Regions from separate parts of the Homo sapiens genome. Here region 1 is linked to region 2. The links come from fine-mapping of genetic effects on gene expression. A gene starts in region 2. The other region holds a variant in brackets. All regions are shown on one strand. Distances are between the middles of the regions. Region 1 overlaps CHFR (checkpoint with forkhead and ring finger domains). Region 2 holds the start of CHFR (checkpoint with forkhead and ring finger domains).

The links. PIP is the estimated chance that this variant, and not a neighbour inherited with it, causes the effect.
Region 1: its variant is fine-mapped to the expression of CHFR in blood mononuclear cells (TOPMed, PIP 0.98).

The regions. Positions count from the first base shown.
Region 1 is chr12:132,831,315-132,834,228 of GRCh38, reverse strand. It overlaps CHFR (checkpoint with forkhead and ring finger domains), which reads left to right. Exons shown (of 18, transcript NM_001161346.2): 18 at 1-1,873. Among named protein-coding and RNA genes, the nearest start is that of GOLGA3, 3.9 kb to the right of the region's middle. The variant C/T (reference allele first, on the strand shown) is at 1,231.
Region 2 is chr12:132,885,998-132,888,911 of GRCh38, reverse strand. CHFR (checkpoint with forkhead and ring finger domains) reads left to right here and starts at 1,307. Exons shown (of 18, transcript NM_001161346.2): 1 at 1,307-1,365; 2 at 1,572-1,716. The coding sequence starts at 1,584. It overlaps CHFR-DT (CHFR divergent transcript), which reads right to left and starts at 1,070. Exons shown (of 2, transcript NR_110919.1): 1 at 980-1,070; 2 at 341-792. RefSeq lists enhancers at 1-514, 851-1,260 and a silencer at 1,331-1,450.

The DNA.
Region 1 (2,914 bases), 55 kb after region 2:
TCCACTTGGTGTTCAAACATCCCAGATTCATGTTGTCAAAGAGAGCTGTTTCCAGTGGGGACCCCAGGCCCACCACGTACGCCCGGCAGACCTGCCCTCTCCACTGTCAGAAGATGGCATGGCCTCCCTGTAGCTCAGGCCCAACCCCAGGAGTCATCCTGCTGGCTGTCCTCAGTGCCCCAGGCTTCTCTTCAGGGGCTTCTTGTGGCTCTGATTGTTGCCCCCTCACCTCACTGCTCTTCTCCCAGATCTGTGCGTGCATTGGTCCTCCTTGTCACGCACGTTCAGCTCAAATATTACTTCCTCAAAGGTGCCTTTGAGTACTCGTTCTCCTTGCCTTTCCCTCTCCTGGGACACTGTTCCCACCAGTACCTGCATGATTCCTTTTTTTTCTTTTCCTTTTCTTTTTTTGTTTTTGAGACAGTGTCTTGCTCTGTTGTCAGGGCTGGAGGGCAGTGGCGCAATGTCAGCTCACTGCAGCCTCCACCTCCTGGGCTCAGATGATCCTCCCACCTCAGCCTCCTGAGTAGCTGGGACTACAGGTGCACACCACCACACCCAGCTAATTTTTAGTAGAGAGCAGGGTTTCACCATGTTGCCCAGGCTGGTCTTGAACTCCTGAGTTCAAGCGATCTGCCCGCCTCTACCTCCCACAGTGCTGGGATTCCAGGCGTAAGCCGCCACGCCCAGCAACTCCGTTTCTTACTTGTTGGCTCACATTCTCCTGAGAAGTCCTCCCTCAACCATCGGCCTGAAATAGCAGCGAGCCTCCCCAGGGTTGCCTCTGCCTTTTCTTGACTCTTTCTGTCACCTTCTATGCTTGTTGTCTGGTCCCCACTAGAATATACCTTCTGTAAGAGCAGGGATTTGGGACAGTGCCTAGAATAGTACTTGCAGACAGTAGGCTACGATAAATATGAATGACGGCCCCATGCAGATGGTAGCCCCTCTCGCTCGAACGCTTCACCCAGTTTTATTTTCTTTTCATCAGTTACCGCCCTCTGAAGGTATCCACACACAAACATGAAACTGGACCAAAGCAGGGACCCCCCGCACGCAGAATAGTGCTGGGCTCGCGTAAGGCACCTCAGTGGGTCCATCAGCTGATGCATGGACAGACAAAATGGGTGTATCCAGACACTGGAGTATCGTGCAGCGAGGAAACGTGCTGAGTGTGGATGGACCTTAAACACACCATGCAAGTGAAAAGGCGTCACAGAAGGCCACATA[C/T]GATATGATCCCATTTCTATGAAATGTCCAGAAGAGGCACATTCATAAAGACAGAAGGTGACTGAGTGGTTGTCGGGCTGGGTGGAGGGGATAGGGAGTGAATGCAAGAAGGATCCTTCTGAGGTAACGGAAGTATCCGGAAACTGGGTTGGAGTGATGGGTGCACAGCTCTGCACATTTACTACAGTCGCTGAACTGCACACACAACACGGGTATATTTTATTGCATAGAAATTGTATTAAAGCTGTTAAGAATTTTACTTAGATTAGCATTTTTCCCACACTGTGCCATCAACTTAGTATATGATTAGATTCATTGTTTCTAACTGTATTTAAATTTAATGTTTGTCACATTTTGCTTGCTAAATTTTTAAAATTTTAAATTACTGTGGGTACATAAAAGGTGTATATATTTATGGAGTACCTTGATATTTTAATACAGACATACAATGTATAATGATCAACTCCCAGTAACTGGGGTATCCATCACCTCAAGCCTGTATCATTTCTTTGTTAGGAACATTCCAGTTCCACTCTTTTTGTTATTTAAAAATATACAATACATTATTATTAACTATATTCACCCTCCTGTGCTATGGAATACTAGATCTTATGCTAATTAAATGTTTTCCCTATTTCTCCCATTGGCTACACCTTAGGATAGTGCAATATGAAAATCAGGAAACTGAGCTTGGTGGAGTGTTTTCTTCATTCTGTCATTTTATCACATGAGGACATTCACGTAACCACGGTCACAAAATACAGAACAGTTCCATCACCACAAAAATCTCTCTCCATCTACCCCTTTTTAGTCATCCGAACCCCACCACCACTCTATAATGCTGTCATTTTGTGACATAAGTGGACACATCGTACAGTTCATGCAGTGTAGACCTTCGGAGATGTTTTCCTCCCTGGATGTAATGCCTTGGAGCTTCGTCCAAGTTATTGCACACATCAGTGGTCAGCTCCTTTTTATTGCTGAGTAGTGTCCATGGCATGGGTGGTCCACGGTTTGTTTCACCACGTCAGAGTGGCATGGGTGGTCCATGGTTTGTTTCACCACGTCAGAGTGGCGTGGGTGGTCCACAGTTTGTTTTGCCACGTCAGAGTGGCGTGGGTGGTCCACGGTTTGTTTCACCATGTCAGAGTGGCGTGGGGGGTCCATGGTTTGTTTCACCATGTCAGAGGACATTTTGGTTGTTTCCAGTTTGGGGTCAGTAATGTACAGGCTTTTGTGTAGACATAAGTTTATTTCTCTGAGTTCAATGTCTAGGAATGCAGTTGCTGGGTCATAAAATTGTTTACTTTTTGAAGAAACTGCCCAACTATATTCCAGAGTGGGTGCACTATTGCTGTTCCCATCAGCAATGTATAAGAGATTAGTTACTCCAGAATACATTATTCCCAGCATTTCATATTGCCACTGCTGTATATTATTTCAGCTGTTCTAATAGGTGTATACTAATATCCCAAGGCAGTCTTTTTTTTTTTTTTTTTTTGAGACAGAGTCTGACTGTGTCACCCAGGCTGGAGTGCAATGGTGTGATCCCAGCTCACTGCAGCCTCCACCTCCCAGGTTCAAGCGATTCTCCTGCCTCAGCCTCCCAAGTAGTTGGTATTACAGGTACCTGCCACCATGCCCAGCTAATTTTTGTATTTTTAGTAGAAGCAGGATTTCACCA
Region 2 (2,914 bases):
AAAGATGTGGAAAAGGAAGGAGATTCTCTACAAAGTAGATTTCCCCCAGGAGACAGTTTTGCAGGGCTACGTAAAACTATGTTAAATAAATACATGTCAGGGTAAAATACTTCGTTTTCTTCCAGGGCCTGCTATTTGTCATGTGATGTATCTTAATGCTACAGACCGTTTGGTCAGCCTTAAGTTGTCTGTTTTAACGTCGACGCTGGTCAGTTATACCTGAATTCCAAAGGGAGGACAGTATAATGGGACATATCCAAACCCTGCTTCCCATCAGGGACTGAACTGGTTTTTCAGATTAACTTTGGCGTTGAGAGACTCAGTTCATTCAGTTGGTTGGGGAGGCTTACAATTTTATTTTTGGTTTACAAGGTATAGATAACTATGCCTATACCTATATATACAAATGTTTATATATGTATATATGTGTGTATATATGGTTTGTTTTACACAAATGGATGCCTACTTTATTTATTTTGGTAGCGATGAGGTCTCAGGCTAATCTCGAACTCCTGGGCTCGAGATCCTCCTGCCTAGGCCTTCCAAAGCACTTAGATTACAGGCGTAAGTCACTGCGCCCGGTCCTGCTTCACCCTCTTAAAACCGCCCTTGGGGGCTCCTCATGAGTGCAGACATTGGCGCGTTCCTCCAAACCGCACAGACTCCCCCTGCGTGGACGCGTCTCGCCGTCTTTACTCCTCTTTCGCCGACCTTTCACTTTCAGGGAATACCCTCTGGCGCCCTTCTCTGGAGCACACACGTGAACGCCGCCGGATTCCAAGAAGTGAGATACTGAGGCAAAAGTTACGCGCGTTCAGAACAGGAAGACCCCGCAAAACGCCGGCCAAGACGTGGCCCCGCGTCCACCCTGCCCACAAGCAGCCGCTCCCACTCGCGGACCGCGCCCTGTGCCTCAGACTTCGGATCTGTGTGATCCACTGTGTGCAACTGTACCCGAAAGGGTCCCCACGTGCACTACCTCGTGACAACTAAGATGGACCGTCTTCTACTCCTAGGAGTCATCCCCAGATTAGCGGGGCTCTCAGAATCCTTGGGGCTTCCAATCCGGAAGTTCCCCGTCCCTTCTGCCCCAACATAACATGGCGCCGACCGCAGCCACTTCCGTGATCCGCAGGCGACGAAGTCGCCTGGTCAGGATCAAAGATGGCCGAGCGCCCTCCACGCGCCTACTCTCGCGGGCCACTCCCGGCTCCGCTTTAGCTGCCGCTCTTGGTGAGCGCCGCCGCCAGCCAATCGCGGGGCGCAGAGGCCTCTGGCCCCGCCCCGCGGATCAGCTGAGGGAGCCGCAATGTCTCTTGACAGCGGCGGCGGCGCAGCCGGTTCCGGGTTCGGCGCGGGGCGGGGGTAAGCGCGGCTGGCGAGGGGGCTGCGGCGGGCGGCGAAGGGGGACCTGGTTGCGGCCGTGGGAGGGGGCGCCCGCCGGCGTCCAGGCCGGGCTGCGGGGCTGCGTGGGCGCGGGCGGCCGGGCCGGGGCCCGCGGGGTGGGGCGGGCGCCGAGTCTCGGCCTCTGGGGTCGGGAGTCTCCATGGGCGTTTCCGGGGTCTCCGCAGATGTGAATCCCGATGGAGCGGCCCGAGGAAGGCAAGCAGTCGCCGCCGCCGCAGCCCTGGGGACGGCTCCTGCGTCTGGGCGCGGAGGAGGGCGAGCCGCACGTCCTCCTGAGGAAGCGGGAGTGGACCATCGGGCGGAGACGAGGTGCGGGGCTGAGGCCGGGGCCGGGGGCCGGGGCCGGGCAGAGCCACCGGGTTGCGGGCAGGCCACACGGGCGGCGGTGCAGTGTGCGCTCCAGATTTTTCCGTGGAGTGAAATGTCATGTAAGAACTGGTATTTATTCGGTGTTCTGCCCACCGATTCTTGCGCATGATTCACGCACATCATTTAGCCTTCGTTACAACTGTATAAGTTAGTTGTGTTCATATACTCTCCAGAATGCAATATTGTCACGTTCGTTGCCGTACAGAGTATCTTTTCTGACTGTAATGGAACGAAATTAAAAATAATAGAAGGAAAAGTGGAAAATTCACAGATATGTGGACATGAAACACCACACTCTTAAAGCAACCGGTGGGTCAAATAAGTCTTTACAACGGGGACCTTGTTTTGAGACAAATGAAACAAAAATAGAATACACCAAAAGGTATTTAGGATGCAGCCAAGGCAGTACTCAGAGGGAAATTTATAGCTGTAGTGCTTATATTAAAAAAGATCTCAAGTCCCAGCCCCTAGAATATTTATTTATTTAATAAACCTGGAAAGCTAAAAACTTGAACAAAGTCATACAACGGGTGAGAGAAAGTTCCCTCAGCCTCCACATTCACTGCCTCCAGTCTCCCAAGTGACCATCTGGTTGTTTGATTTCCTCTGAAGCCTTTGTATGGGGAGAGAAATGCGCTGGTCCTGTCAACAAAAATGTTTAGTTTGTCTGAAAATTAATGAATTAGCTCCGACATTATACTCTAAAAAGGAGCGAGGATGGGAAATATTTGCTGTTTGGAAGCAATTTTTTTTTTTTTTTTGGTTAATTTCACCCCTTATAATGTGCTTGCACCTGGTTTTTTTTGTTTTTTTGTTTGTTTTTTTGAGATAAGAGTCTTGCTCTGTGGCCCAGACTGGGGTGCAGTGGTGTGATCTCAGCTCACTGCACCCTCTGCCTCCCGGTTCAAGTGATTCTCCCGCCTCAGCCTCGGAGTAGCTGGGACTACAGGCGTGCGCCACCATGCCTGGCTAATTTTTGTATTTTTAGTAGAGATGAGCTTTCGCCATATTGCCCAGGCTGGTCTTGAACAACTGAACTAAAGTGATTCACCTGCTTCGGCCTCCGAAAGTGCTGGGATTACAGGTGTGAACCACTGTGTCTGACCTGGTTTTGTTTTTTGGGGTGTTTTGGTAGTCT